Regions from separate parts of the Homo sapiens genome. Here regions 1 and 3 are each linked to region 2. The links come from fine-mapping of genetic effects on gene expression. A gene starts in region 2. Each other region holds a variant in brackets. All regions are shown on one strand. Distances are between the middles of the regions. Region 1 overlaps LIMA1 (LIM domain and actin binding 1). Region 2 holds the start of LIMA1 (LIM domain and actin binding 1). Region 3 overlaps LIMA1 (LIM domain and actin binding 1).

The links. PIP is the estimated chance that this variant, and not a neighbour inherited with it, causes the effect. A credible set is the group of variants that fine-mapping cannot tell apart.
Region 1: its variant is the best candidate, but not a certain one, in a credible set for the expression of LIMA1 in whole blood (TOPMed, PIP 0.79).
Region 3: its variant is the best candidate, but not a certain one, in a credible set for the expression of LIMA1 in whole blood (TOPMed, PIP 0.64).

The regions. Positions count from the first base shown.
Region 1 is chr12:50,251,164-50,261,318 of GRCh38, forward strand. The region is part of intron 1 of LIMA1 (LIM domain and actin binding 1); the gene reads right to left. It also overlaps the pseudogene RNU6-1093P. Among named protein-coding and RNA genes, the nearest start is that of MIR1293, 22 kb to the left of the region's middle. The variant C/T (reference allele first, on the strand shown) is at 4,973.
Region 2 is chr12:50,277,991-50,288,145 of GRCh38, forward strand. It overlaps LIMA1 (LIM domain and actin binding 1), which reads right to left and starts at 5,530. Exons shown (of 11, transcript NM_016357.5): 1 at 5,430-5,530. LOC107984505 (a long non-coding RNA gene) reads left to right here and starts at 5,631. Exons shown (of 2, transcript XR_001749144.2): 1 at 5,631-5,892. It also overlaps the pseudogene LOC100418734. RefSeq lists a silencer at 5,441-5,750.
Region 3 is chr12:50,178,287-50,188,441 of GRCh38, forward strand. LIMA1 (LIM domain and actin binding 1) reads right to left here. Exons shown (of 11, transcript NM_016357.5): 10 at 3,618-3,751. Among named protein-coding and RNA genes, the nearest start is that of CERS5, 16 kb to the left of the region's middle. The variant G/C (reference allele first, on the strand shown) is at 4,247.

The sequences.
Region 1 (10,155 bases), 27 kb before region 2:
TCATAGTTTTTTTTAAACTCTGTAAGGCAAGTTAAGGAAATGCTAATGAATGCTTTAAGATATTATTTGGTAGAAATATACTACCAATATAGTTGTGGGTATAAATACTGTCAGTTCTTCCATAAAGATCAACTCTGGATCAAAGGGGAAAAAATATATACAAGATACATTTGCAGGCCAGGCACGGTGGCTCACACCTGCAATCCCAGCACTTTGGGAGGCCGAGGCAGGCAGATCACTTGAGGTCAGGTGTCCAAGACCAGCCTGACCAACATGGTGAAACCCAGACTCTACTAAAAATACAAAAATTAGCCAGGTGTGGTGGTACACCCCTGTAATCCCAGCTACTTGAGAGGCTGAGGCAGGAGAATCACTTGAACCCTGGAGGCAGAGGATGCAGTGAGCTGAGATCATGCCACTGCACTCCAGCCTGGGTGACAGAGTGAATGAGACTCCACCTCAAAAAAAAAAAAAAAAAAAGGTATGTTTCTAAAAAAGGAAAAGGATTTATTATTTGAGATACCGAGCACGATAAAGAAAAAAAAGGTTAACTCCCAAGTCTAAGTCCGTGGTTTTGATTACTCCCAGCCAGAAAGTTAAGAAAAGTCAGAACATCTATTTTGGTATACAGCTAGGAGAGGCACACAGTTCTTAGAGTTCTTACACTCAGGGAATGAGATGACTCTCACCCTGACCACACTTGTCTTCACAGAAGCATAATGTTATTTCTTAGCAATGTGATTAGTACCTATGAAACAGATAAACGTGAGAATCAATACATGATTTTTGATAGACTCTGGTACCAGGCTATTGAATAACTACTTCTTATGAGATGTAGGGAGATGTCCCTGCCTGAATGGTGTACATAATCTACTGTGCTTGCTGACATACACACAAATATTTATAGTACAAGACAGAATGTGGTTAGAGGCTATGCGTGGTGTAGGAATACAAGACCTGATTTTCTGGCTTTGTGAGAGGGAAAGGAAAAGATATCAGATGACTTGGGACTTAAAGAACGGGCAGAATTTCATCAAAGTGAAGGCAGGAGGAGGAAGGAGGAGAATAGCATTAGCACCTTTGGGGAGTGAGTTAAACTCTAGGTGCAAGAGAAGTTGAAGATAGACAAGACTTGGCCAGGTGTGGTGGCTCACGCCTATAATCCCAGCACTTTGGGAGGCTGAGGCAGGCGGATCACCTGAGGTCAGGAGTTTGAGACCAGCCTGCCCAAGATGGCCAAACCCCATCTCTACTAAAAATACAAAAAATTAGCTGGGCGTGGTGGCACGCGCCTGTAATCCCAGCTGCTCGGAAGGCTGAGGCAAGAGACTCTCTCGAACCTGGGAGGCGGAGGTTGCAGTGAGCCGAGATTGCACCACTGTACTCCAGCCTGGGTGACAAGAGCGAAACTGTCTCAAAAAAAAAAAAAAAAAAAAAAAGACATAATGGGGCCTGACTGGGAAGAAAACCATGCTAAGGAGTTTGGGCCATATTTCAATAGTGGGAAGAAGTAACCCATGAGTGATCAGAGATTAGGTCTAATCTTATGTGCTATTTACTTAGCACATGCATGGTTTTTATAACAAAAAAAGTTTCTGATCCTCAATATCCACACCTGTAAGATAAGATCTCTGTAGTGGATTAACCACAGTCTCTCTGGTGGAACACAGAAAGTTTCTGAAAAAGCATGTAACATGACTAACATCATATTTTAAAATATTATTCAGCAGTAGTGTGCAACTTGCTAAGAGGGAAAAAGACTGGAGTCTAAATTACTAGTCAAGAAGATCCTGAAACTAAGTGAGAGGTAATCAAGGTTTAAATTCGTAAATTAATTAGGGTAGGTGGAAATGGAAAAGTGGGAAGAGAGAAATTGACAGTTCTTAGAATAAAATGAACTTAGGGTAAAAGAGAATCAAAGCTGGCATCATCAAACCCGAATGATGGAAGGCTGTTGATTCCATTAACAGAGACAGTAAATATAGAAAGAAGAGGGAAAATGATGAGTGTTGATTTACACATGTTGAGACATACATGTCAGCAAGAGAAATCCAAATGATATACAATAGGAAACTACAAATTCAAAGCTAAAGTTAGAAATCCGACTCTTGGAAGATTTTAAGACACTAACTTTATGCTTTGCATATATCTCAATCCTCACAATCATTCTACAGGATTGGTTTTATTGTCTTATATTTATGGTAACGAAATTGAGATTCAGACATATTAACTTTACAAAGATCACTTAGCTATAAAGTAGCAGAGCTGGGATTCAAACGCATATTCTGTTTGATTCCAAAGTCCATTTTCTTTCAACTACAATTAATGAAGAATGATTAAAACCGCCACTTTTAGCCAATGTAGAAAACCAGCTAGAAAAATCCCTGAACCACCTAGCTGAAAACCCATACAAATTATTTTTCAGTAAGAGAATAGTGGTGAGTATCTTCCCAGAGTGGTGAATATCAGAGATAATCATTCCTGCTTTCAGGGAAACTTAAAAGTTATCCTGGGCTCACTTGGAATACCCTCCATTGTAGTAACTGGCTTTCATTGGCCTGCATTAAAGGTGTGGTATTGGGGCCAGCATGGTGGCTCACGCCTGTAATCCCAGCACTTTGGGAGGCTGAGGCAGGCGGATCACCTGAGGTCAGGAGTTCCGGACCCAGTCTGGCCAATGTAGCAAAATCCTGTCTTTACTAAACATACAAAAAATTAGCCAGGCATGGTGGCAGGCGCCTGTAATCCCAGCTACTTGGGAGGCTGAGGCAGGACAACTGCTTGAACCCGGGAAGCAGAGGTTGCAGTGAGTCGAGATCATGCCATTGCACTCCAGCCTGGGCGACAGAGCGAGACTCTGTCTCAAAAAAAAAAAAAAAAAAAAGAAAGGTATATTATCTCTCCCCACCCACACAGTCTCTCTCAGATATGAGTTCCATTTTCAGACTTTCAGACTCCAAAACCCATTCTCTTCAGTCATATGCATTCTACTACCACATGAACTGTGAAGGAAGAACTGCTGGATTGGAAGACAGTTGGCTGCAAGAGTTAAAGGAAACATATAACAAAAATAAACACAGATTTTTAGCTTCAGAGACTAGAAGGATCGTTGCATGACAAATAAATGGTATACATAGAAAGGGGAACAGTTTGCTGAGAAGGAAGATGCCTTCAGTTTCAGATACAAATGGCAGATTTTTTTCATTAAGAAAGTAGCTTGGAAATCAAGTAACCAAATCCCCTTTTTTACAGTGAGGAAACTGAGATGCATAAAGCTCCAATCATTTTCCAAAGTCACCAGCTGGTTAGTATTAGAGCTAGAGTTCTAACTCCCAGGATCAATGTTCTTTTATCAAACCAGGTAGCTTGAGATGGGCCACTAAATTGTCCTAGGGTAGGGTAAGCTGTAGCTTGGAGATAAAGATCTCTCGAACAAAGGTCCTTGAAAAGTTGAAGAGTGACTCACTGGGAAATCTGCCCCAGGTATCTGCTTCCTCAAGCTGTTGCTTACGGTGAGGCCGGTAACTGCTCCAAGAAACCTATTCTAATAAATTCATTTACAGACTCTCCTGACCAAGGAAACTGTCTCTCAGAAACCAGGCTTGGACAAAAACAGCCGGGCGCGGTGGCTTATGCCTGTAATCCCAGCACTCTGGGAGGCTTAGGTGAGTGGATCACTTAAGTTCAGGAGTTCGAGGCCAGCCTGGCCAACATGGTAAAACCCTGTCTCTACTAAAAATACAAAAATTAGCCAGGCGTGGTGGTGCATGCCTGTAATTCCAGCTACTCGGGAGGGTGAGGCAGAAGAAAAATTGTGTCACTGCACTCCAGCCTGGGCAACAGCACAAGACTCTGTCTCAAAACAAAACCAAAAAAAACAAAACAAAAAAAAACCACCAAACCAAACCAAAAAATAAATGAGCTGGCCCTGCAACCAGCCCTCCCCAAGCCACTAATAAAATCCTGTTCTTATATATCCGATCTCAGTGGCCTCCTCTCTTTTTTTTCTCCTGAGATGGTTACTTATTCAAGCTGTATGGCTTCCTGAACATAGCCTCAAAAAATTAGAACAAAGTAAAAACTACAAACTCACTTATGAAGAAAAAATGGGCCACATGTGGTGGCTCATGCCTGTAATCCCAGCACTTTGGGAGGCCGAGGCAGGCAGATCACATGAGCTCAGGAGTTTGAGACCAGCCTGGGCAACATGGTGAAACCCTGTCTCTACAAAGAAAAAATACAGAAAACTATCTGGCCATGGTGGTGTGTCTGTGGTCCCAGCTACTCAAGAGGCTGAGGTGGGTCACTTGAGCCTAGAGGTTAAGGTTGCAGTGAGCCGTGATCACACCACTGTACTCAACCTGGACTATAGAGCCAGACCCTGTCAAAAAAAAAAAAAGAAAAGAAAAGAAAAAAAAAAGTAAAGAAAAGAAAGAAAAGAAAGGAAAGAAAGAAAAGAAAAACATTATTTTTAAGAAATAGATTGTAGAGTTTTAGTTTTTCTACCAACCTCTCTTCCCAATTTGAATGTCATCAGGTAAAAGGGAGCAATTAAAAGAAAAAAAAAAACTAAAAAACTTCAAGTTGCAAAGGGAATTTTAAATAAAAGCAACATGAAATACATTGCTACATAATGTTTTTTCAGAAAATTACATTTCTAAATTTATATTTCTGTACAAAAATAGTGACTAAATTCACATTCTTGAACATTTTTTGGAAGTTAATAGTTATTTATTTTTTTTTTGAGATGGAGTCTCACTCTGTCGCCCAGGCTAGAGTGCAGTGGCGCAATCTCGGCTCACTGCAACCTCCGCCTCCCAGGTTCAAGCAATTGTCCTGCCTCAGCCTCCTGGGTAGCTGTGATTACAGGCATGTGCCACCACACTCGGCTAATTTTTTTTTTTGTATTTTTAGTAGAGATGGGGTTTCACCATGTTGGTCAGGCTGGTCTTGAACTCCTGACCTCATGATC[C/T]GCCCGCCTCGGCCTTCCAAAGTGCTGGGATTACAGGCGTGAGCCACCGTGCCTGGCTGGAAGTTAATAGTTCTTTAACCTTTTTTTTTTAAACTTTTTTTTTTAAACATGGACTGCTTCACAAATTTGTGTGTTAACTTCACACAGGGACCATGCTAATCTTCTCTGTATCATTTCAACTTTAGTATATGTATGACTGAAGTGAGCACTCACCTTTTATTCTGAAACAATTTCATACATAAGAGTTGCAAAAACAGTACAAGAGTTCCCATATACATTTCACCTAGCTTTATCTTATATTACCATAGTACAATTAGCAAAACTAAGAAATGAGCACTGGTACAATACTATTAACTATAGACTTTATTGAAATTCCACCAGTTTTTTAATTAACGTCTTATTTCTGTTTCAGGATCATACACTGCATTTAGTTGTCGTGTCTTCCTAAGTCTACCCCAATCTATGACAGTTACTCTGCTTTTCCTTGTCTTTCATGACCTCGATATTGTTGAAAGTATTGGTCAGATATTATGTAGAATGTTCCTCAATTTGGGTTTCTTGGTTTCTCCAATAAAATAGAATCAAGACTCCTTGGAGAAGCGGTTGATTCCAGAGCTGGGGAAGGGCAAATACAAGATCAGCCTGGAACATCTTGCAATACTCAAAAGACAAAACAAAAAAAAGTTTTTTTAAAAAACATGATATTTTCTCAGATTAGATTGAGATTATAAATGTTTGAAAGGAATAATCCAGAGTTGATGTTCCCTTCACAGTGCATCATATCAGAGGGTACGTGATGTTGATGTGATGTCTTATTACTCACGACATTAGCCTTGATCACATGGTTAATGTGGTATATCAGGTTTCTCCTCTGTAAAGTTATTATTTGTTTTCCCTTTGTAATTCATAAATATTATGAGGGAGAACTTTGACTCTGTTTCTCCTTAAACTTTTTCCCATTAATTTTAGCATTCATGGGTGTGTCTTGCTTATGGCAATTATTACTGGTATTCTAATGGTGATTTTCTGTTACTGTCATCCTTTCTACATTTATTAATTGAAATTCTTCTATAACGAAGATTTGTTCTCCCTCATTTATTCAACCATTTACTTAGAAGATTTTACATTACTTAGAACCATTTACATAGAGATGAAGTCTCCCTATGTTGTCCAGGCTGGTCTCAAATTCCTGAGCTCAGATGATGTTGAAGGCCGAAAGAGTGAGGGTCGTGATCAACTCAGTATACCACTGGAGGCTATATGAGTAAACAGCAAACTGTTCTCATGAATGCAGAATGTTGGCAAACTGACAAATTGCATCTGCCACCCAGAAGGAATGCTGAGGGCAGTCACACCAGCAGTGTTTCTTGTGATTAGGCATAATTGATACCTGTTAACAGTAATATGAACCTGTGATCAATTAAGCAGCTGACCAATCGTTACCTCCTCCTCCCTGCTCTTTCTACCCAATAAATACAAAGGGCTGTGGAAGCTCAGTGGGCTGCCTTTGCTCACTAGAAGCAGGGAACTCTCTTTTTCTTCCTCTGACCCCTTCCTTTAAAATAGTTACTTTTAAGTTTTCATTTCTGCTTTCCACACCCTTAGTTCAGTCTTATAATGATGGTCTCAAGTAGTAACAGTAGTAACTGTCATAGTGATGGTCTCAAGTAGTAACCTTGGCAGTATGCCACAAGATGATCTTCCTGCTTCGGCCCTCCAAAGTGCTAGGATTACAGGCATGAGCCACCACGTCCAGCCCAACCATTTATTTATATTAGGATGGTTTCATAGATAGTTACTTTATTCCCTGTATTATAATCCAATACTATCCTTATTTTATTGCTTAAATTGTTCCAGCTCTTGGAGTTTTTGGCTTGGCTCCAGTGTTCTCTCAACTTGCCCTGTTTTTTGTTTGTTTTGTTTTTAGCACTTCCTTACTTTCTAGCACTGCAAGATGTTCCAGGCTCGTCTTGTATTTACCATGCCTCAGCCCTGGAATCAACTATTTCCCCAAGGAGCCCTGTTTTCTTTTATGGGAGAAGTTAGCATCTGGGCACTACTAGTTATGCTCATTGCCACTGAGATGTCACTGCTTCTAGGCGTCTTAGTGGACAAAACCAAGAATTATATGTATGTATACTGGCCCATGTATACACACTGCTTTTTGTGTGTGTGTGTGTGTGTGTGACAGAATCCACTGTCACCCAGGCTGGACTGCAGTGGTGCAATCACAGCTCACTGCAGCCTACCTCCTGAGCACAAATGATCCTCCCACCTCAGCCTGCCAAGTAGCTGGGACTAGACACATGCCACCGCGCCTGGCTAATATTTTAAATTTTTTTGTAGAGACAGAGTCTCCCCGTATTGTCCAGGCTGGTGTCAAACTCCTGGGCCTAAGTGATCCTCACGCCTCAGCCTCCCAAAGTGCTGGGATTATAGGTGTGAGCCACTGTGCCTGGCCTATAGGCACACATTTCTTTATTTAGCTCTATATCTACCTATACTTTTTTTTTTTTTTTTTTTTTTTTTCTGAGATGGAGTCTCACTCTGTCACCAGGCTGGAGTGCAGTGGTGCGATCTCGGCTCACTGCAACCTCTGCCTCCCGGCTTCAAGCCACTCTCCTGCCTCAGCCTTCTGAGTAGCTGGGACCGCAGGCATGCGCCACCACACCCGAGTAATTTTTGTATTTTTAGTAGAGACAGGGTTTCACCATGTTGGCCAGGATGGTCTCGATCTCTTGACCTCGTGATCTGCCCACCTCGGCCCCCCAAAGTGCTGGGATTACAGGTGTGAGTCACCGCGCCCAGCCCTATAAAAATTTTATAAACTATAAATTCATACTGATATTTCTGACTCCAGTCTAGCATCACAAGGTTCATTCTAGTATTCCCTCTTGGCTTATTTATAACTTCTTTCTCTGATAGTAAAAAGCCTAACCCCACAGAACTTTGATTTCTGAAAACAGATCTAGAATCTCTAAAATTATGCCATAACCAGCTTCTCCTCCCATGATACACCGTATATTTTTTTCACTCCATTTGAAATGTTATCCCGTACTCAACCTATTCACCTTAAAAGACTCAAGTGAAAGAACACACATGGCCCTTTTCCAAACTGCCCTAGCCCTATTCCTAATCAGCATAAGTCAATCCCCCTGCCTTATAATAATTTCATAATTCCTACTCAATAGCAAGATATTTGAAGTCAGAAGACAGATCTACTTTGTCTTTTAACCTTCTGACATCTAGTATTTAATACATTGCTTTCTAAATAGAAAGAACTCTATAAATACGCCTTCCATAAAATTACACATAGCTTTAAGTTTTATCTGAAACACAATTAGTACAGAAACTGAATGCTTATCCTGCAGTCCCAAGACTAGTTATGAGGAAGCATATATTTTTCAGAACTGTGAATTACCCAGTAATTTTAGCTTATTCAAACTCTCATATAAACTCACAATATAAAAAAATGGAACCACTAAATAACATCAAATGTTATAAATAAAAAGCTCACTACTCTATTATTCAGAAACATGATGATAGACAAGTCTGCAGGCATGTTAGAATAATCACTGCTACTGTTCTTGGAAGAGCTTCAGGTATGTGTAGAAACATGAATCTAGACAATAGCACAATTGTAACATTGACCAAATTCCCAGGGGTCAACAAGAATGTAAATGTTTACATCAGGACAGACTCACTTCAATAATATTTGATCTCTTTATCGCCTTTTAAAGGATATTTTGTGCCTTCAAAAACACTAAGACCCAGAGCAAAAGCAACAAAAATGAGGCTGTGTAATTGAGAATAAATTCCACTTTTCTCTTTTCTTGCAGAATCCTCTTTTCCTACCTCCACTCTTACTCCCAGGAATCAATAAAGAGTCAGTCTCTCTCCCTTCTCTGAGCGAGCTCACTTACTCTCAACTCATCAAAAGTCACTTATTCCACATGATTCCCAAAGCTGGATCCTAAGGCCTAACTTTCCTGGCTTCCACTCCTAGAGTTTCTTTTTTTTTTTTTTTTTTAGACAGAGTTTCACTCTTGTTGCCCATGCTGGAGTGCAATGTCGCAATCTTGGCTCACTGCAACTTCCGCCTCCTGGGTTCAAGTGATTCTCCTGCCTCAGCCTTCCGAATAGCTGGGATTACAGGTGCTCACCACCATACCCGGCTAAGTTTTTGTATTTTTAGTAGAGACGAGGTTTCACCATGTTGGCCAGGCTGGTCTCGAACTCCTGACCTCTAGTGAGCCACCCGCCTCGGCCTCCCAAAGTGCTGGGATTAGAGGCGTGAGCCACCACGCCCAGCCCAGTCCTAGAATTTCTACTCCATGCTGGATAGTTTCATATGTCCAATATGCAACGTAACATAACCCAAATCATATGTATTATCCTTTCTTAACCTCTACTCTTCAAATTAAGTTCATTTAATTACAAATCATTTTTCTCCAAAGAATTGGTATATGAATTTTTGCTTCTATCAAATAAAATAACACATAACATAGTATAACAAAATGTACACAAAGTTTGAAGTTAAAAGGAGAACTTACAGGTTCTCACTGGGCCTCTAACTGTGGTGACATGTGCAAGTTTCTTTACTTCTCTGAGGCATATACCATTACCTACCCTAGCTAGTCAAAAATTCTATATAAAATGCCTAACACAGGGACACATTTTGGAAAGAAAATAGCAAGAGGCTAAGGGCATGGGGCATGGATTAGAATTTAGCTGTTGAGATCTCTCACCACGAACACTAGCTGAGTGATCTTGGGCAAGTTTAATAACTTGCCCCAAAAAAAAAAAAAAAAAAGGAAGTCATTTATTTACTTATTTACTTATCAGTAAATGCTATTTTACCCCTCTCCCTGCTTTTTTTGTCTTTTGCTTTTCTGCCATCTAGTATATTTTTTTTTTTTTTTTTTTTTTTTTTTTGAGATGGAGTCTCGCTCTGTCGCCCAGGCTGGAGGGCAGTGGCGTGATCTGGGCTCACTGCAAGCTCCGCCTCCCGGGTTCACGTCATTCTCCTGCCTTAGCCTCCCGAGTAGCTGGGACTACAGGTGCCCACCACCACGCCCAGCTAATTTTTTGTATTTTTCAGTAGAGATGGGTTTCACCGTGTTAGCCAGGATGGTCTCCATCTCCTGACCTCGTGATCTGCCCACCACAACCTCCCCAAGTGC
Region 2 (10,155 bases):
TTCGGGCCGGGCGCGGTGGCTCATGCTGTAATCCCAGCACTTTGGGAGGCCGAGGTGGGCAGATCTCCTGAGGTCAGGGGCTTGAGGTCAGCCTGATCAACAGGGTGAAACCCTGTCTCTACTAAAAAACACAAAAATTAGCCAGACGGGCTGGGCGAGGTGGCTCATGCCTGTAATCCCAGCACTTTGGGAGGCCGAGGTGGGCGGATCACAAGGTCAGGAGATTGAGACCATCCTGGCTAACACGGTGAAACCCCATCTCTACTAAAAATAAAAAAAAAAATAGCCAGGTGTGGTGGCGGGCACCTGTAGTCCCAGCTACTCAGGAGTCTGAGGCAGGAGAATGGCATGAACCCGGGACGTGGAGCTTGCAGTGAGCAGAGATCGTGCCACTGCACTCCAGCCTGGGCGACAGAGCGAGACTCCATCTCAAAAATCATCATAATAATAATATTCAATGTTACCAAGGCCGCACTAAGATGGGCACTCACAATCACTGCAGTTGAGAATGTTAATTAGTCTAATCTTTACAAAAAGCAATTTGGGAGCAGGTTTAGTATTTTTAAATTTTCACACTCCTTGACCTGGTAATTCAACCTCTGGGAATCTAACCTAAGGAAATAATGAGTCATTTGCACAAAGATTTATGCATAAATTTGTTCTCAATTGTTTTCATTTAATGTAAAACCAAAACACAAATAAATTATGCAACCTCAATATAATAAATTATTAAATAGATTACAATGGAGATTAAATATCCATTTAAATGTTTTCAAAAATTTTTGATGCTATGAAAAATAATATAAAGCAAAAAAAGCAGACACAAAACTATATCTACTGCAACAGTATGAGTTCAATTACCTTTGTGTTTATGTGAGTGTGTGTATATCAAAGAAAACAAAACCACTGAAAGGAAATATATCAAATGATAGATCTCTCTGGAACAGATTATGGAATATGGGTTATTTTGTCTTCTTTATAATTTGTTTTTTCCACATTTTCTTTTTTTCTTTTCTTTTCTTTTTTTTTTTTTGATATGGAGTCTTGCTTTGTCACCCAGGCTGGAGTGCAGTGGCATGAGCTTGGCTCTCTGCAACCTCTGCCTCCTGGGTTCAAGGGATTCTCCTGCTTCAGCCTCCTTAGTAGCTGGGACTACAGGCATGCGCCACCATGCCCAGCTAATTTTTGTATTTTTAGTAGAGATGGGGTTTCACTATGTTGGCCAGGCTGGTCTCGAACTCCTGACCTCAAGTGATCACCCGCCTCAGCCTCCCAAAGTGCTGGGATTACAGGCATGAGCCATCACACCCGGCCTGTTTTTTCCACATTTTCTATAATAAACATATATAATTTTTATTTTATAATAATATAAATATCTATAATTTTTATTTTTAAATGTGTTGGCATATATGAAAATAAAACAATTATATATACAATATGAAAGAAGTTTTTTAAAAAGATAAATTTTCAGGCCACTTACATGGAGGTGATAGTGGAAGTCATGGAAAGAAATCAGATTATAAAGGGAGAAAGTATAGTGAGAATAGGAAGCTGAGCAGGGCTATGGTGAACCCGGCATTTAAGGGGCAAAAAGACTGAGTTAATGGATCATGGGAGTAAGTGGTTAGATTAGAAAATGGAGAACCAGATAGTAGTCATGTCAAGAAAAGCAAATGAAAGGAAGAACTAGACAAGTTGTTCACTTGGTCAGTTATTGCCAAGGGGTAAGGACCGTTAGACAGAAACCACTGGATACTATGCATGGACAGACAGCTTTCCTGTAGTGCTGGAAGCCAAATTTTTGCTCAGACGCCAAAGCTGAGCAAATGTTACCTGTTTAGTAAAACTGACTATGAAATAAAAGAAGTCCCGGGGCATTAGCTTGAATTTCAGTTTATGGAGAAAAAAAAGATTGTGGAAATCTAAAACTAAGTAAAGCGGATATTGGGACTAATTTATGGGTAATGAAACAAAAATGGCAATACTTTGTGCAAGACAAAACATATTTGAAGGACTGTAAAGTTTTCCATATCATAAACTCTGTTACAGAATAATTAAGGGGGAAAATAGATCCACACTTGTTATCAGAAGTACAAAAAAGTTGCATCTTTTTTTCCCCTAAAGATGAAAGTTCTTAGTTTCAGGGTAGTAGTATTTTTTTTTTTTTTTTTTTTTTTTTTTTGAGACGGAGTCTCACTCTGTCACGCAGGCTGGAGTGCAGTGGCGCGATCTCCGCTCACTGCAAGCTCCGCCTCCCGGGTTCACGCCATTCTCCCGCCTCAGCCTCCCGAGTAGCTAGGACTACAGGCGCCTGCCACCACGCCCGGCTAATTTTGTTTTTGTATTTTTAGTAGAGACTGGGTTTCACCATGTTAGCTAGGATGGTCTCGATCTCCTGACCTCGTGATCCTCCCGCCTCGGCCTCCCAAAGTGCTGGGATTACAGGCGTGAGCCACCGCGCCCGGCCCAGGGTAGTAGTATTAAGAAATTATTTAAAAGAACATCAAAAGAATGTAAAATTTTCATGGTATCATGTTAACTTCTTATGAGTGGACACAGGAAGTCTCTAGAAAGTTTTCACGTGTCAAGAAATCATCTGACATGCTGAATAATGGATTGCTTGTTAGGTCAAACTCCATCCTTTTTATGAAAAGAGGTCTTCAGTAGCACAATAATTTGACTGAGTCTTGAGGACTCTGCACCCAGCTTCAGAATAAACTCATCAGTATGGTCCTACCTTATCATCCACCATAGACTCTCAACTCCATAATCATTAAGTAGAAACTACTTCATTTACAACCACTGGTTTGTTAGTAACCTGAAGAGGCTGTGTTAAGTAACCTCACCTGGAGATTACTGTATGCAATCTAAAATGAAGTACCTTAAGTTTCTATCAAAAAACATACAGTGAAAGACAATAGCAAACTTAAAAAACAATTGCCTTTTCTAATGGAAATTACTAACTTAGGACTCGTTATACATTTTCCTATCTGCAGAAAGGGTACAATTCTAATCTAAAAGTCATCTATCTAATAGTGTATGGAATTAAGAATGCCTGAAACTAGTTTCACTGTCAATTTAAATAATAAATTCTTCCAATTTGTGGTTAGGTGCCCTATTATGCCAAAGATGTCTAATGAACTCCCACACTCTCAATATTCTTTTGTGTCTGTGTGTGTGTCTTTGATAAATTTTTTTGGTACGAGGGCTCTAAGTTAATTGCAGTTAACTGGTGAAAAATACCAGAGAAAATATAAGAATTTGAAACCTGAAGAAACACTAGTCAAAATTATACTTAAAAACATTTTTCCCCACCCACCTATCTACCCTGTCTTCCCCACCCAAGAAAAAAAGAAAGAGAAAAACATTTTGAGGGCATCTTAGCAGGAAAAAGTATCCCCTGTCACCAAGATGTGAATTGTTTTAGCTTCTGAAGCTTTCTTTTAGAATTATTAGGTTGAAATTTAGCCCCACCTTTAACCAGAGTCTGGAACAAAGCTTGAGTGTACCAAGTTAAAGAAAGTTATACAATGAGGTAATTTTTACAAAATGGCACTCCTTTGCTAATGTTGCCAATATACTGTTCTCTTCCCAGGGACTACCTGATAACAACACTTCCCAGCCCAATACAGAACAGTGGAAACAGATCCAACTATTTACTAAATGCCACATTAACAACAGGGTCTAATCCCATTTTCCATAGGCCATAGAATTGGAGGAAGAGAGGGTAAGAAATATGAAAGTGATACAAATACATAGATTGAAGAGAATCACTCATTATTACTCAGAGGTTTTTGTTTTTAAGGAAAAGCAGAAGAGAGAATTAAAAAACAAAACAAAACACCTATATTCCCTATGCTCCTACAGTACCCTGGGCTGACCTCTAGTATAGAAATGACCTCACTAATACCATAAATTGTATGTGGATCTGTCTAACCCATTTGATTTTAAGTTCTTTTAGGGTAAAGACGTTTGGCACTTTGAATCTACAGTAGGACTGACATGAAAGGCACTCAATATTTTGTCCAAAGAATGAAATAAGTTCCTAAACTAATTACCTAGTACATTATATGTTGTTCTATCAATGCAAAACAAGAAAACATATATGAACACACACTTTTTTTTGCCTTCTTTCACGCCAACTCTATAATTTTTTGAAGATCTATCTAAAACGTGATCATCCTGCACCCAGGTTATACCTCTACAGGAACTTAGAACATGTTGTTAGGGGTCATGTTCTTTTGTGTCTACATCATACCTCAGAAGAAAGGATTGGTGTTATTTCATGGCTCCTGAAATATTTAGCATTTGTGAATAGTATTGGTAACCAAGCAGATAAAAGGTACTGTGTTAAACCATTTAAATCAAGAGCAAAAGAAAGAATACTTAATGCAAAAGAAAACCTCTCCCCAAAATGGGCATTGCCTTAAAAACTGATAACTCCCTAATTACCTTTGACTAACCTGAAAAGTCAAGTCAATTGAACCATCTGGATTAGGCAGATCTGGATTAGGCAGACTTATCTTTTATTTTTATTTATTTATTTATTTTTTTGTAGAGACAAGGGTCTCGCTAAGTTGCCTTGGCTGGTCTCAAACACCTGGGCTCAAGCGATCCTCCCGCCTCAGTTTCCCAAAGTGTTGGGATTATAGGCGTGAGCCACTGCGCCCGTCCAAGGCAGACTTTTGAAAGCTGGAATTAGGTGCAAGACAATAGTAGTTCAAATATCTCTCACCAGGATCAGCTAAACCGTTCTTGCAAGCATCAGTAAGGAGGCTAGGAAGGGTGCCAGATGGTTCGTTCCTAGCAGCTACAACTTCAAGCTTTAGTATGTGTAGCCAGGGGTGTACAATTACCTTACATTAACACCAACATATGTCGGGGGCAAGTGCCAGCGATATATACACGATAGCGATTCGGGGATGACACATCGGCTGCAAGGACTGCTATATTCTCAACATTCCTCAAAAGGGTGTAAGTGTCTTAAACAGAGTTCAGCTGGCGTAATGGAAGGGAGAAAAAATCGAAAAGAGAGGGAATGGCTGAAAATGAAGGAAAAAGAACAGTTGAATATTACAGTATTTCCCTGGAAGGAGGGTATTTGGAGTTTTAATGAATTGTCACCTTCCTCCACCACACCAGAAAGTATACAGTTAGAATGCAGTGTTCTCGGTGGGAGAGGACGGGGTATTTGCAGCTCCCGCCCTTGGGCAGCAAAGGCTCAGCCCGACATAAGCACTCCCCACCCAGCGCAGGCCCCAGAAGTGAGGAAAGAACGGAGGATCAGCGTCCCTCGACCCCTTATCTCGAGGGGGAGGGACTCACACTCCTTGCACTCCCCCCGCCCCAAAAGTCGAAGGAGAAAGAGGGTGTGGAGAGAAGCCGGGGTCTTCCCGCACTCTCCGGTTGTGGAGAGAGAAGGCCCTTACCTGGCTAAAAGCCGCCTTTCCTCTGCGCTGCTACCAGCCCTGTCACAGGTCCCGGCGCTCTACCTAGCGCACCTGTCGCGACCAAGCTGCTAACACCTACTGCTCCTGCGGCCCCGCCCCGGACCCCGCCCACCGCCGCGGGGGCGCGCACGCCAGACAGCCTCCCGTGCGGCCTCGGGCTGAGCGTGCGCGCCACCGGCTACGTGCCCAGCGCTCGCGTCTGCTCCAGTCGCTCTGGCGGTGCGGGGCGCTGGCGACGGGACAGGGTTTTTGCTGCCCGGGGCCTAGTCTACCTCGGCACGCTTTTCTCTGAAGGAGACACGCACTTGCACGACGTGGGCCTCTGTGCAGCTCTACTTTGTCCTTAACTCCTCTGACTCAACGTTATCGCAGTTTGACTCTGGAGCCACTCAGGTTTTTCCTAAGCTCAACTCTAGCCAGCTAGGTTCCTGGTGCTTTGGGGGTAAGTTGTGTGCAGGGAGGGTGTTTTACAGGAGGCTGTGTGGTGTAGTGGAAAAAGCTGAATTAAGTACATTAATCCTGAAAACGGTTTGACAAGGGCAGATGACGTCCAAGTTCTCCAACAGCTGTTTTTACTCCTCCATTCAGAATAGGAGCTGTGCTAATGGTTTGGAGACCGTCAATTGGCCTAGCACTTGGCCATCCTGCCCCCAAATTCTTGTCCCAGTTCCGTGCCAGCTGCATGATGCCTTTTGATAGTATCCTTCTTTCCTGTACCTCAAGCATAGTAGGGTTTCAGACCACAAGTTTTCTGAAGCTTTTCGGAATTCATGCAGCTTGATGCGTTATTAGTAGGGGCTGCTCGTGGGAAAACGCTTGTAATTACACTTCCTCAAGAAGTTAATGAAAATGTGTGAGAAGAGAGATTTCCAACAGGTGATGAATATGCCAGCCAGTTATTCCCTTCTTCCTTCAAATATCCAGCCTAGACTGATTTCTGGATAGGTATTGTAGAAATAAAAATTTCAGACAAAACAAACTTAGATTTTGAATCGGACAACAGTCAGAACCAAAAGAGGCTCAGACACCCCTGCTCTAGCTGCCCAGGCATCAAACTTTATAGGCTGAACACGAAAGTAAAGAAATTTGATTGGCTACAGCTAAGCGTTTGCCTTATTTGGGTATGGTCACATGGGAGGTCCCTAATTATATAACCACTTGGCTGGTTGTCTGTTTGTGATTGGTTGAAACTCCATTCAAAATCAGGTACAAGGGGCCGGGCGCGGTGGCTCACACCTGTAATCCCAGCACTTTGGGAGGCTGAGGCAGGCGGATCCCCTGAGGTTAGGAGTTCGAGACCAGCCTAGCCAACATGGCGAAGCACCGTCTCCACTAAAAATACAAAAATTAGCCGGACGTGGTGGTAAGTGCCTGTAATCCCAGCTACTCGGGAGGCTGAGGCACGAGAATGACTTGAACCCGGGAAGTGGAGATTGCAGTGAGCAGAGATCTCGCCACTGCACTCCAGCCTGGATGAGAGAACGAGACTCCATCTCAAAAAAACAAAACAAACAAAAGGTGCAAGGAATACCTCTAAATTTTGGGTTGCTTTCTGGGTACAAAAACAACTCCAAACTAATGGCCTGCTACTTATTTTGCATTAACAGTATCAAGTATCAAGACTCCAGCAAAAGTGGCAGACAGCATGGGAATGCTAAAGAGCATACAATATCAATACAGGATAGTACTCCAGAAAATACGTTACCCTGCATGTGGCGTTCCCTCAATAGATGTCTCCCCTCCCCCCAATTTTTTTTAGCTCTGTGCTTTAGTGGATACAAAAATTACTTGCTTTCCCAAAGCCTCCTTTTGAAGATAGAGCTAGCATTAGGTTGATTGCTAAATTTTCAGGGATTTTATGAGCCAGGTCATAAGCACAACCATTATTAGAAATCAAATTATATAAGCTACAATTAAATTATCTTAAAAATAAAAGTAATAGGCCAGGCATGTTGAGTCACATTTGTAATCCCAGTGCTTTGGGAGGCTAAGGCGGGAAGATGGCTTGAGGCTAGAAGTTTGATGTTGCAGTGAGCTATGATCACACCACTGCACTCCAGCCTGGGCAACAGAGTGAGACCCTATTTCTAAAAAAAAATTTTTAAATATAATAAATATTAAAAACTCATCACTTTGTAGTTTTTTTCTTCATTTTACTAATAATTCTGCTCTTGAGGTTATTTGTCCATTGTATTCCCTGTGGAAATACTACATATGTTGTATGCATCTCTTCCCAACTCTATTCAGAAATGTCACATTGGTAGCACGAAATTGGCTGTAAGGGGAGTATTTACACCATGGAAATGGGCAAATGCAGCAAGTCAGGGCGTGATTTATTGTTTTGTTGATTTTTCTAGACCATATGTTAGCAAACCTTTTGTGTAAACAGCCAAATAGTAAATATTTTAGGCTTTGTGGGACTTATAGTCTCTGTCACAGCTACTCAGCTCTCACTGTAGTGCCAAATGTGCCAAAGTAGCCATAGACAATACTTAAAGAATGGGCATGGGCCAGGTGCAGTGGCTCACACCTGTAATCCCAGCACTTTGGGAGGCCCAGGCAGGGATCACTTGAGGCCAGGAGTTAGAGACTAGCCTGGCCAACATGGCAAAACCCTGTCTTTACAAACAAATAAAATAAACAGACAAAAAAGCTGGGTGTGGTGGTGTGTGCCTGTAATCCCAGTTACCTGGGAGTGTGAAGTGGGAGGATGCCTTGAGCCCAGGAGTTGGAGATTGTAATGAGCCGAGATCACACCACTGCACTCCAGCCTGGGCGACAGAACAAGACCCTGTCTCAAACAAAAAACTCATAGGCCTTTATCTGATAGTGAAGGGAACAATAGAGTTGAAAGGGAAAAATGGAGTAGATACAGGCAAATGTTTACATACATGATACGGTGCAACAAGAATAGCAGAACATACTGCAAAAGAAATTATGTCAACATATTTAAGAATCTTGGAAGAGAATGGCAAATATGCACTATAATTGATGAGACATCTACATATTGGAAGAAAATTACCTAGAGATTTATCTCCAGTACACAGTTGAATAAGCTTCTGTACTGGTAAAGATATTTGTTGCTTTAAAAGAATTGGTGTCAGCTGGGCACGGTGGCTCACGCCTATAATCCCAGCACTTTGGGAGGCTGAGGTGGGCAGATCACAAGTGGGCGGATCACGAGGTCAGAAGTTCGAGACCAGCCTGGACAACATGGTGAAATCCCATCTCTACTAAAAATACAAAAATTAGCCAGGTGTAGTAGTGTGCGCCTGTAGTCCCAGCTACTCAGGAGGCTGAGGCAGGAGAATCGCTTGAACTCCAGAGACACAGGTTGCAGTGAGCAGAGATCACACCATTGCACTCCAGCCTGGGCAACAGAGCGAGACTCCATCTCCAAAAAAAAAAAAAAAAGTAATTGGTGTCTGCCACACAGATTATATTTCTACTACATTATTGTCTATTTTACTTTTTTTCTTTTGAGGCAGAGTTGTGCTCTGTCCCTCAGGCTGGAGTGCACTGGCACGATCTTGGCTCACTGCAACCTCTGCCCCCTGGGTTCAAGTGATTCTCCTGTCTCAACCAAGTAGCTGGGATTACAGGCGTGCACCACCAAGCCCAGCTAATTTTTGTATTTTTAGTAGAGACAGGGTTTCACCATGTTGGCCAGGCCGGTCTCAAACTCTTGACCTCTAGTGATCGACCAGCCTTGGCCTCCCAAAGTGCTGGGATTACAGGCGTGAACCGCCGCGCCCAGCCGATATTGTCTACTTTAAATGTGGCTTCAGTAATGAATATTTGAAATTTAATAATGAATAGTTGAAAGTAAGCTGCATTTTGTTTTAATGGTGCTTTCACAATAATGGGAAAGAAGACTGGAGTGGCCACAGATTTGTCAGAAAAATTTCCTAATGTCATCATTTGGTTCTGTTACCAATTATAATTCAGTATCTGAAATAAAACAAGTCAATCATTTAAAAATATTCTGGATAGTCTGGGCACGGTGGCTCATGCCTGTAATTCCAGCACTTTAGAAGGCCGAGGCAGGCGGATAACTTGAGGTCAGGAATTCAGAACTGGCTTGGCTAACATGGTGAAAGCCTGTCTCTACTAAAAATACAAAAATTCACTGGGCGTGGTGGTGCACGCCAGTAGTCACAGCTACTCGGGAGGCTGAGGCAGGAGAATCACTTGAACCCAGGAGGCGGAAGTTGCAGTGGACTGAGATTGTGCCACTGCACCCCAGCCTGAGACAGAGTGAGACTCCGTCTCAAGAAAAAATAACAATATTATGGATAAAATTTATTCTGTTTACCACCAACCCAAAAAAAGGAAACAGTTGGAAATTATAGCTAAATAACTTGAAACTGAAATTATTAAAATTAGCCAAGTACTTAGGTTGAGATGGGTGGACATGTACTTTACCAACCGCTAATGCTGCATGGCACACATATCCTACATTATAAATGCATTTTTCTCATTCTTTTTATTCTGGCCTAGCAACAAGATCAGCTAATATTAATTTCTTGTAATACCTTACTTTAATGATTGATATTCTTAAATAATTTTCATTACTTTCAGTTGCACTGCAGTTAAGATCAACCAACATTCAGAAAATTAAAAAATTAATAGAATGCACTATAAAAGCTTTGGAAAAATTAAAAATTGGCATTAGAAAGCATGACTCTCAAGTTGAATATTTGGT
Region 3 (10,155 bases), 100 kb before region 2:
CTGTAATCCCAGCGCTTTGGGAGGCCAGGGTGAGAGGATCGCTTGAGCCCAGGAGTTTGAGACCAGCCCGGCCAACATAGTGAGAATTCATCTCTACAAAAAATTTAAAAATTAGCTGGGTGTGGTGGCACATGCCTGTAGTCTCAGCTACTTGGGAAGCTGAAGTGGGAGAATCACTTGAACCCGGGAGGCAGAGGTTGCAGTGAGCTGAGATTGTGCCACTGTGATAGAGCGAGACTGTCTTAAAAAAAAAAAAAAAGAAAAAAAAACCAACAGTAATAGAAACTTTAAATCATTCTGAGCCTTGAGAGGAATGTGGCTATGCAACCTGGGTCACACAGCATGTAGCTGCAACTCTTTCTTTTCACTATAAATTATGAAGACCAAAGGGCACCAGAGATAAGACCCCCTCAGATCACTATCCCTTCTTTGCGAGTGATAATCTTCCTTGGAATGTACCAATCTGTACCCAATCAAATCACTGTGGTATATGCACTGGTCTTATATGAAAAATGTCATAATCTTTGCTAAAATTTCTGTGTAAGTGAAACTAACTTTCTCCACTTTGGAATGCTGACCCCATTCATTTGGAGTCAGTGTTTCTGGGTAGCCATCATCAAGCTTTTGTGCTTGAATTAACTCTATTCTTAACGGTATATAAATACATATATATATATATATTTTTTTTTTCTTTTTCTTTTCTTTTTTTGAGAGAATCTCGCTCTGTCGCCCAGGCTGGAGTGCAGTTGCACAATCTTGGCTCACTGCAACCTCCGCCTCCCAAGTTTAAGCAATTCTCCTGCCTCAGCCTCCTGAGTAGCTGGGATTACAGGAGTGCGCCACCACGCCTGGCTAATTTTTGTATTGTTTTGTTTTGTTAGAGTCTCGCTCTGTCGCCAGGCTGGAGTGCAGTGGCATGATCTCAGCTCACTGCAACCTCTGCCTCCTGGGTTCAAGCGATTCTCCTACCTCAGCCTCCTGAGTAGTTGGGACTACAGGTGTGTGCCACCATGCACGGCAAATTTTTGTATTTTTAGTAGAGACGGGGTTTCACCATGTTGGCCAGGATAGTCTCGATCTCTTGACCTCGTGATCTGCCCGCCTCGGCCTCCCAAAGGGCTGGGATTACAGGCGTGAGCCACCACGCCCAGCCATTTTTGTTTTTTTTTGAGACAGAGTCTCGCTCTGTCACCCAGGCTGGAGTGCAGTGACACGATCTCAGCTCACTGCAAGCTCCGCCTCCCAGGTTCACGCCATTCTCCTGCCTCAGCCTCCCGAGTAGCTGGGACTACAGGCACTCGCCACCACACCTGACTAATATTTTGTATTTTTAGTAGAGACGGGGTTTCACCTTGTTAGCCAGGATGGTCTCAATCTCCTGACCTCGTGATCTGCCCACCTCGGCCTCCCAAAGTGCTGGGATTACAGGCATGAGCAACTGCACCCAGCCATTTTTTGTTGTTTTTTTTTTTGAGTGGAGGTCTTGCTCTGTCACCCAGGCTGGAGTGCAATGGTATGATCATAGCTCACTGCAGCCTTGACCTCCAGGGCTCAAGTGATCCTCCAGCCTCAGTCTCAGCCTCCCCAAATTTTTCATAGAGATGGGATCTCCGGCCAGGTGCAGTCCCAGCACTTTGGGAGGCCGAGGTGGGCAGATCACTTGAGGTCAGAAGTTTGAGACCAGCCTGACCAACATGGTGAAACCCCATCTCTACTAAGAAATACAAAAATTGGCCAGGCGTGGTTGCTCACACCTGTAATCCCAGCACTTTGGGAGGCCGAGGAGGGCAGACTGACTGAGGTCAGGAGTTCAAGACCAGCGTGGCTAACATGGTGAAACCTCATCTCTATGAAAAATACAAAAATTAGCCAGGCATGTTGCACACGCCTGTAGTCCCAACCACTCGGGAGGCTGAGGCAGGAGAATTGCTTGAACCTGGGAGGTGGAGGTTGCAGTGAGCTGACATCATCCCACTGCACTCCAGCCTGGGCGACAGAGCAAGACTCCATCTCCGGAAAAAAAAAAAAAAAGAAAGAAATTAGCTGGGCGTGGTGGTGCCCGCCTGTAATCCCAGCTACTCAGGAGACTGAGGCATGAGAATCGCTTGAACCTGGGAGACAAAGGTTGCAGTGAGCCAGGATCACACCACTGCACTCCAGCCTGGGCAACAGAGTGAGACTCCATCTCAAAAAGAAAAACCAGATGGGGTCTCTCTATGTTACCCAGGCTAGTCTTGAACTTCTGGCATCAAGTGATCCTCCTACCTGGGCACTCCCAAAATGCTAGGATTACAGGTGTGATCCTTATATCCACACCTAGATATAAGCTTGATTAATAGAAGAATGGTGAGGAGTTGACAGGAGGTAGTTTTTCCCTAATGTCAGTCCTAGACAAGCCTTTAGGAGATTTGGTGTCTCTTGCAGGATGATAAGTTTTATCTTTTTAAAGTTTTTTCCCTTAAGTTACGAACCATTCTGAAGAGTGACAAATGTTAAAGGGGGTATAAAACGGCAGCACTTCCACAAAAGAAATAAGGTGCTTTAAGCCAGGCACAGTGGCTCACACCTATAATCTCAGCACTTTGGGAGGCCGAGGCGGGTGGATCACGAGGTCAGGAGATCAAGACCATCCTGGCTAACATGGTGAAACCCCTTCTCTACTAAAAATACAAAAAATTAGCTGGGTGTGGTGGCGGGCGCCTGTAGTCCCAGCTACTTGGGAGGCTGAGGCAGGAGAATCGCTTGAACTCAGGAGGTAGAGGTTGCAGTGAGCTGAGATCACGCCACTGCACTCCACCCTGGGCAACAGAGTGAGACTCTGTATCCAAAAAAAAAAAAAAAAAAAAAGGTGCTTTGGAGAAAAAAATTAACACAGTGGGCAGCAGAAGAACTAATGAGTGGAAGTGACTGAGGTACACTTTGGCTGCATGTTTGGAGAAGCTGTCTAGCTAGAGCTATCTAATAGCTAGAAATGTCACACAGATGCCAAAACATCTTTCAAGAGTATTTTAGGAAGGATTGCTCAGAAAGGAAAGCTGGAGAAAGTGACATCTTGGTTACTTCCTTCTGTAAGACTCTATGATTAAAATGAGTTAATTTGGAATGTTTCCCCGATTTGTCACATTTATATTTGCACTTTGAGTTACTTGGAAGAAATGATATGTAACAACTATTTTCTCAGAAATAAAGTGAGGCAACATAGAGAAAAAGACATGCTCTCCAGGGGCTATTATTATTGCCATTATTATCATTTATACAGTGGTTAAGACAAGTAAGGGCTTAAACAAGTAACCTCTTGAGATTTCTTAACTTTGTGATTCTGTGATACCAAGGGAAAACATTCTATTAAATTAGGTCACAGGGGGGTTTACCTGCAACTCATATTATTTAAGCTTCGGTCCTAACATGTAAATTAACATATCAATACACCAAGAAGTTCCAAACACCATCATTATTTGGTATGAAAGACTTGTCACTAAATGATGCTTTTTACTTTATTCAAGAGCCTTCAACAGAATATCATTAGCACAGTAGCTTTTAGCACCAGTGCTCTAAAAGCCAAAGACTCCCTCTAGAGTTCCAGTTATAGACAGATGGCTTGTTTTGGGCTGACTTACCTGAGTTTGTTGTTGCAATAGGAGCAACGGAAGCAGCTGATGTGAAACACCTGCTGGTTGGCCAAGAGACGCTCCATTGGATAGACTGTCTTCTGACATTCCACGCAGGTCTCTCTTGCAGGTGCCTGAAACTTCTAGGAAAAACAAAAAGACAACTTTAGCATGGGCAGCGATGAGTTAGCACTGTCTTGAGATGGACCCTAGAATTTACTTTGTCTAAGGGCTCCCTTAGCTGGTCAGTCAATTCTCATGGAGCACTAAACCTGCTACAATTCTATCAGCTGACTCTTTAAAGCCAAGAGGCTCTCTTGATATTCCCTTCCCAAACTGTGTGGCTGCTCTAAATGTAGCAGCCACCAAGGATAGGTGGAGCTACGTCTGGATTACAAAGAATGGCTTAGACAAGTCACGACCCACATAAAAAATGTTAGGAGCAGGGGATGGGGGAAGGGGTCGGGGGGGGGAGTGCAGGGATTAGGAGAAAATGTTATCACACACAGAAGAAAGAAGTTTGATTCAAGTGCCAAGTAAACACAAGACAGATTCTAAAGGGGATAAATTTCAAGGAGAGGAAGAGCATTTGGCTTTGGGAATTAGGAAAGACATTTCAGTAAAGCCCCTTTTATTCT[G/C]CTCTGCTTATAATCTTGATTTGTTCAATCAACTAGACATACTATTTTTAAACAAGTCAAAACTGACACACAAGTGGAACAATTTATAAGAGACACAAAGTATTTTATTAGGACACCAGAGGGAAGCATAGCCCATTAAAGCTATAGGTTCTATAATATTTCTAAAAACCAATGGAGAGAAAAACTAATGCAATGGGAAACACACTGGTTAATGTATTAATGACTGGGAATTCATGAACTGTTTGTAAAGTTGGAACAAACATGGGCACAGTGGTTCTACCTGATAAACTCAATCCTAAAGAATATAAAACAGTTGGTATTCTAGCACTGATAAAAGCCAGAACTCCAAAAATATTATAAGCTTTCACATGATAAGAAATAGTTACATGGGCCAGGTGCGGTGGCTCATGCTTGTAATCCCAGCACTTTAGGAGGCCGAGGTGGGCGGATCATGAGGTCAGGAGTTCGAGACCAGCCTGGCCAACATGGTGAAACCCCGTCTCCAGTAAAAATACAAAAATTAGGCAGGCGTAGTGGTACACTCGTGTAATCCCAGTTACTCGGGAGGCTGAGGCAGGAGAATGGCGTGAACCCGGGAGGCAGAGCTTGTAGTGAGCCGAGATGGCGCCACTGCACTCCAGCCTGGGCGACAGAGTGAGACTCCATCTCAAAAAATAAAGAAAAGAAATAGTTACATGGCTACTAAGGGGTGGGGAGTAGATGGGAATGCAAAGTCCCTAGGTGTATGGGAGTTAACCCTTGACTTGCCCAACACAAACACCTCAACCAGTAGATGCGGGAGACAGCTTAGGTGGCCAGGAAGCTCTCATCAGCAATTAGGAGGTGCTTTTGCTGCCATGATCAGCCTGGGCTCTCACCAGAAAACACATGATGGTAAGTAATGCAAATTAATCCCAAGGCCCAGGACCTGGATAGTTAAGCCTGAAATGAACCAGGTTATGGGCAAGATAGAATTTTGAGTAAAAAAAATCCAAAATAGGCTGGGTGTAGTGTCTCACGCCCATAATCCCACACTTTGGGAGGTTGAGGTAGGCAGATCACGAGGTCAGGAGTTCAAGACCAGCCTGGCCAACATAGTGAAACCCCATCTCTACTAAAAATACAAAAATTAGCCGGGCATGGTGGCGTGTGCCTATAGTCCCAGCTACTCGGGAGGCTGAGGCAGGAGAATCGCTTGAACCTGGGAGGCAGAGGTTGCAGTGAGCCGAGATTGAGCCACTGCACTCCAGCTTGGGCAACAGAGTGAGACTTGGTCTCAAAAAAAAAAAAAAAAAAAAAAAACCCAAAACAGGCCCATAAAAAATTCAGACTGTTGGTTCACTTGCCACATGATTCACTAGGAGGTAAAGCAAAAAATAAAAATGGTTTTCCAAGTAGATTTGGGCAGGAAGTGAGAGCAGAAAATGTGCATAAAATGAAAATAAAGAAATCTATAAAAGGAAGTTTAATAAAATTAGTGGTAAACTCCCAAGTAGTGCCCAAGGGATTTAAGAAGGAAGGAACAAAGCTGAGTGGAAATGGCTAGTTACCAGGACTCTGCTTTATTCTAGGGGCAATGTCCTAAAAAGAAACATCTAAAGAATCAAAAGACCACAGGTTACAACCTAGTTTAGCATAAGGGAGGTATTTAAATATAACCAAATGTTATTGTAATGAATGTTGTTGCAAGTAATTAACACATTATCGTATTTGGAGTTCAGAATTCTTTTTTTCTTATATGGACACTGCTAAATGGAGATATCTTTGCAGAGTTTTAATTAAGTTTTCTCTAAAAGGACTAGGTCTTTGTCTAGGTAGGAGATACACTGGCCAGGTGCGATGGCCCAGGCCTGTAATCCCAGCACTTTGGGAGGCCAAGGCAGGTGGATCACTTGAGGTCGAAGTTCCAGAGCAGCCTGGCCAACATGGTGAAACCCTGTCTCTACAGAAAATGCAAACATTAGCTGGGCGTGGTGGCGGGCGCCTGTAATTCCAGCTACCAGAGAGGCTGAGGCACAAGAATCACTTGAACCCAGGAAGCAGAAGTTGCTGTGAGCTGAGATCTCATCACTGCCCTCCAGCCTTGGAGACAGGGCAAGACTCTGTCTCAAAACAACAACAACAAAAGGAGAGATATTAAAAAGCAGAATAAATTTTTGGTGTAATAGTATAATGGATGCTACTGGAGAGAGCCTGTACAAATCACAATTCACATAATGTAAAAGTAGGACAAATGTATTTATCAGATTAAAAATCATTTTCAGTTGCAGAAAGGGAATTCTGCGTTTTTTGTTTTTTTTGTTTTGTTTTGTTTTTTGAGACAGAGTCTCACTCTGTCACCCAGACTGGAGTACAGTGGCGCGATCTCAGCTCACTGCAAGCTCCACCTTCCGGGTTCAAGCGATTCTCCTGCCTCAGCCTCCTGAGTAGCTGGGATTACAGGCGTGCACCACCACACTCGGCTAATTTTTGTATTTTTAGTAGAGATGGGGTTTCACCATGTTGGTCAGGCTGGTTTCTAACTCCTAACCTTGTGATCTGCCCACCTTGGCCTCCCAAAGTGCTGGGATTACAGGTGTGAGCCACTGCGCCTGGCCCGGAATTCTGTATTTTTTAACACTTGAAATAGATGTAGGAGAGTAAGTGCTCATTCTGGTCAGTAAAGACACAGCAGGAGACAGAAACTTCACATGGGATAAGAGGAGATGGATACTGTTCTGCTAAAGGGGAACTGAAGGACGCAGAGCACTCCTCCATCACAAACACACGGAGGGGAGGCACACACTGTGGGAGGGGGAAGCAGCCCAGGGAACAGAAGGAAAGGAGAACCTGTGAGAAAGCTGAAAGTTGAGCTCACATTAGGAGGAAAGTGGAAGGCAGGAGCAGAAATTAGGTACCAGGAGCAGGAGGCAGAAGCTGGAAGAGACAAACAGGAACCTTCAATGAATACACAGCATTTGGCGTGCCCTGGAGAGCTTTACTGCAGCTGAGCTGAAACTCAGAGACTCAGATCCAAGAATAAGACCACATTTTTCTTTTTTTCCTTTTTAAGTAACTCTGCTAATCATGGCAAAATCAGCCTCACTCGTATCTACCTGAGGCTGGAACATATCCCAGCTCAGGAGAGCGAGCTTTTATGAGCCTTCACCCACACAAGGAGTGTCTCATTAACAATTCTTTAGTGGCTTACTACCTCCCACACCTGACCCACATCGGCTCTCTCTTTAATAGAGCCTTCACCCACATGGAGCAAAAAGTCTGTCTTCCTCCTTAACATCAAGTTAATAGATTGCTAGCTCACATAATTGACTAACCTTGAGCTTCTAACTAGCCAGACCTATCAGAGTCCCATTATTCCTATTCATTTCTCACATCAACCCTTTTCAATATTATTTAAGGTTTATGCAGCAGCAGCTGCCTAAGGGCCCCTTCTAGTTTCATAAAGACAAGAGGGTCCCGACATGGTAAAATGCCAACTCACAGCGGCTGCGGCTGTGCCTCCCCTTTATTTTCTATGTCCTGGGCTCTCAGCCACTTTTCTGTAATTGCCCCCATGTCTATTCAGACAACAGGAAGCATAGTCAGTGCCTAAAAATCTCTACCATTATCACAGGCCTGGCATACATCCTGCCCATGCCTTCATGGCATGCTCAGACTTGGCACAGCCATGTTTAAAACACTGCCAATACGACAATGTTAGACATTTTTTATCTTCACAGTATATTTTTTCAGTTAGTAAGAGATTTTTTTTTTCATTCCCCTTCTCCCACCATTTTGCCCCTACCAAGTAGAAAGTTAAACACCAGGTCTTATCAAAGTTCACATAGTCAATAACAGAAATAGAATTAAAACTGTAGGAAAACAGCCTGTTGCATGGCAGGAGTGATGCCATCTTGGAGTGAAACCACCATGCTAACTGGTGGTTTGACTCCTGCATACCAAGGTGGTTTGTTCTGCAGCAAAGTCTTTAAACAATGCCTGTAGCATAGATTATCCCTCATAAAGGGGTAGTGCCCAGAGCATAGACAACCCCTCATAAAGATGCTTATCCAATCGCTCCAGTGATAAGTTTTGCAAGAAAGTCAAGCGTGACTAGCTGCACATGTTTTATCCTAAAACCTTGCTATATAAAGGATATTTTCTGGAGGGCTGGTGCAGGGATCCACTGTCTCATGGCCTCCTAGACATCACTTCTGTTCATAAGCTCTTATTAAATGTTTCTTTCTGAGAAACTGGATTTGTCAGCCTCTTTCTTTGGCTTTTCAGCTCCCTCAGCCTTTGTGGGTAGGTCTGCATAGACCTGCTCACTGCACAAACTCAGAACTCCTGACTCACAAACCAAGAGAGCATTTTCTAAATTGTCCTGGAATGTTAAATTTCCACAGCCAAGGGAAACTCTTTGGGGAGGAGAGCAGATGCTAACCCAAATGAAATTAATCCCACGACAGCAATTTGAACAAACTATGGTCTTCCCTTTGTTTCAAATAAAAATGTGTAGATAATATCTTCAGGATATTCTAGAGTGAATGAGGTAATCTATAAATAATTGATGTTCATAAATACTGTCTTTCCCGTTTGAGGGATATTACAGACCCTCTGTTGATTACCATCTACTTAAAGCTGTTTTTCTAACAAATTTGCATGGCTTCATTTACATTCTTTTACCCTCTTGTCTCATATATTTTTTACTCTAATAAAGGCCCCAGTTGTGGTGTGTGTGGGAGGTAGGGGGGAGCAGCTGACAACAGACATTGATGTTAACTAGCCTTTAGACATAGTGAAAGAAGATGAAAATTCTGTATTGACGTCAAGCCTCTATTCCTCAGAATACCACAAAATGCCTTTCATTCCTTCCAATTTGTGTAAAATATCTAGGTAATGAAACTGAAATTCTTCACCACACAGCAAATGGTTGGGCCAGCCCTGTGCAGCCTTAACCCTTCCTCTAATTTTCTGTGAAACTCTATGAAAGCATTTTGGGGAATATTCATATCTTAAATAGAGTGCTCTACACAGAGAAGAAAGGACAGTCCTCTGAAAAGGCAGTAATAGTGAGTGAGTGAGAAAAGATTCTAGACACTCTTCTAGCATAATTTTGACAGCTTTGCAAGCCAGCATAAAACCTCCCACTGTGTCTTCAGGGGGAGGAACAGCTGGCAGGGTACCGAGAGGGGCAGTGCAGTGTGTGCTGCCCTCTCACGTAGAGTGCCATGTTCTCTCTCAACATTCATCAGCAAAACGCTGTGAGGAGGCCTGGGACTTGGTTGTCCCGTACACAGTGAGGGCAGACAGTTGTTCCCTAGGGCCAGTCACATCTCCTTGCCTCTTCCTTCCCTATCCTCTCCTCTGGGAACGTTTAGGGGATGATTTCTTTCAAATGGGAGGACATAAAGCCTAAGAGATCTCTGAGTCTCTTGAAGTAGAAAGGCCTGATACTTCTCACAGGGTCCACTAAGCTCTGCTCTCAGAACGACACCCTTTTTGAGAATGAACCTGTAACTTCATTGGTACCAAGTCTTACCAAGTAAGCTCTGTGGCCAGTGTTCAAAGTGTACAGAATCCTTAAAGACCTCTATCATTTCTTTTTACTTTATTAAGCTAAAATTTGAAATGAATTGAATCTCTACCTTAGATGTCCTCTTTTCAATAACAGACAGGCACTAAGAAACAGTTTTTTCCAGGATGTGTGGGATCCAAAAATCTATTCTGAGTGAACAAGTTTATTCTTAGCTGTATGTAATTTCCCAAAGTGGAGAAACAACTTCTGTTCATAGTCTGCAGCCATGAGACCAGTTCTGCCAGCAGGTCTTCCTATAAACATTTACTAAAGTATCTGTATATTTGCCTGCAGACTGTAAAGGGGAACTCTGAGGAAGAGCAAATAAATTGCCCTTAAATAACAGTGGAGA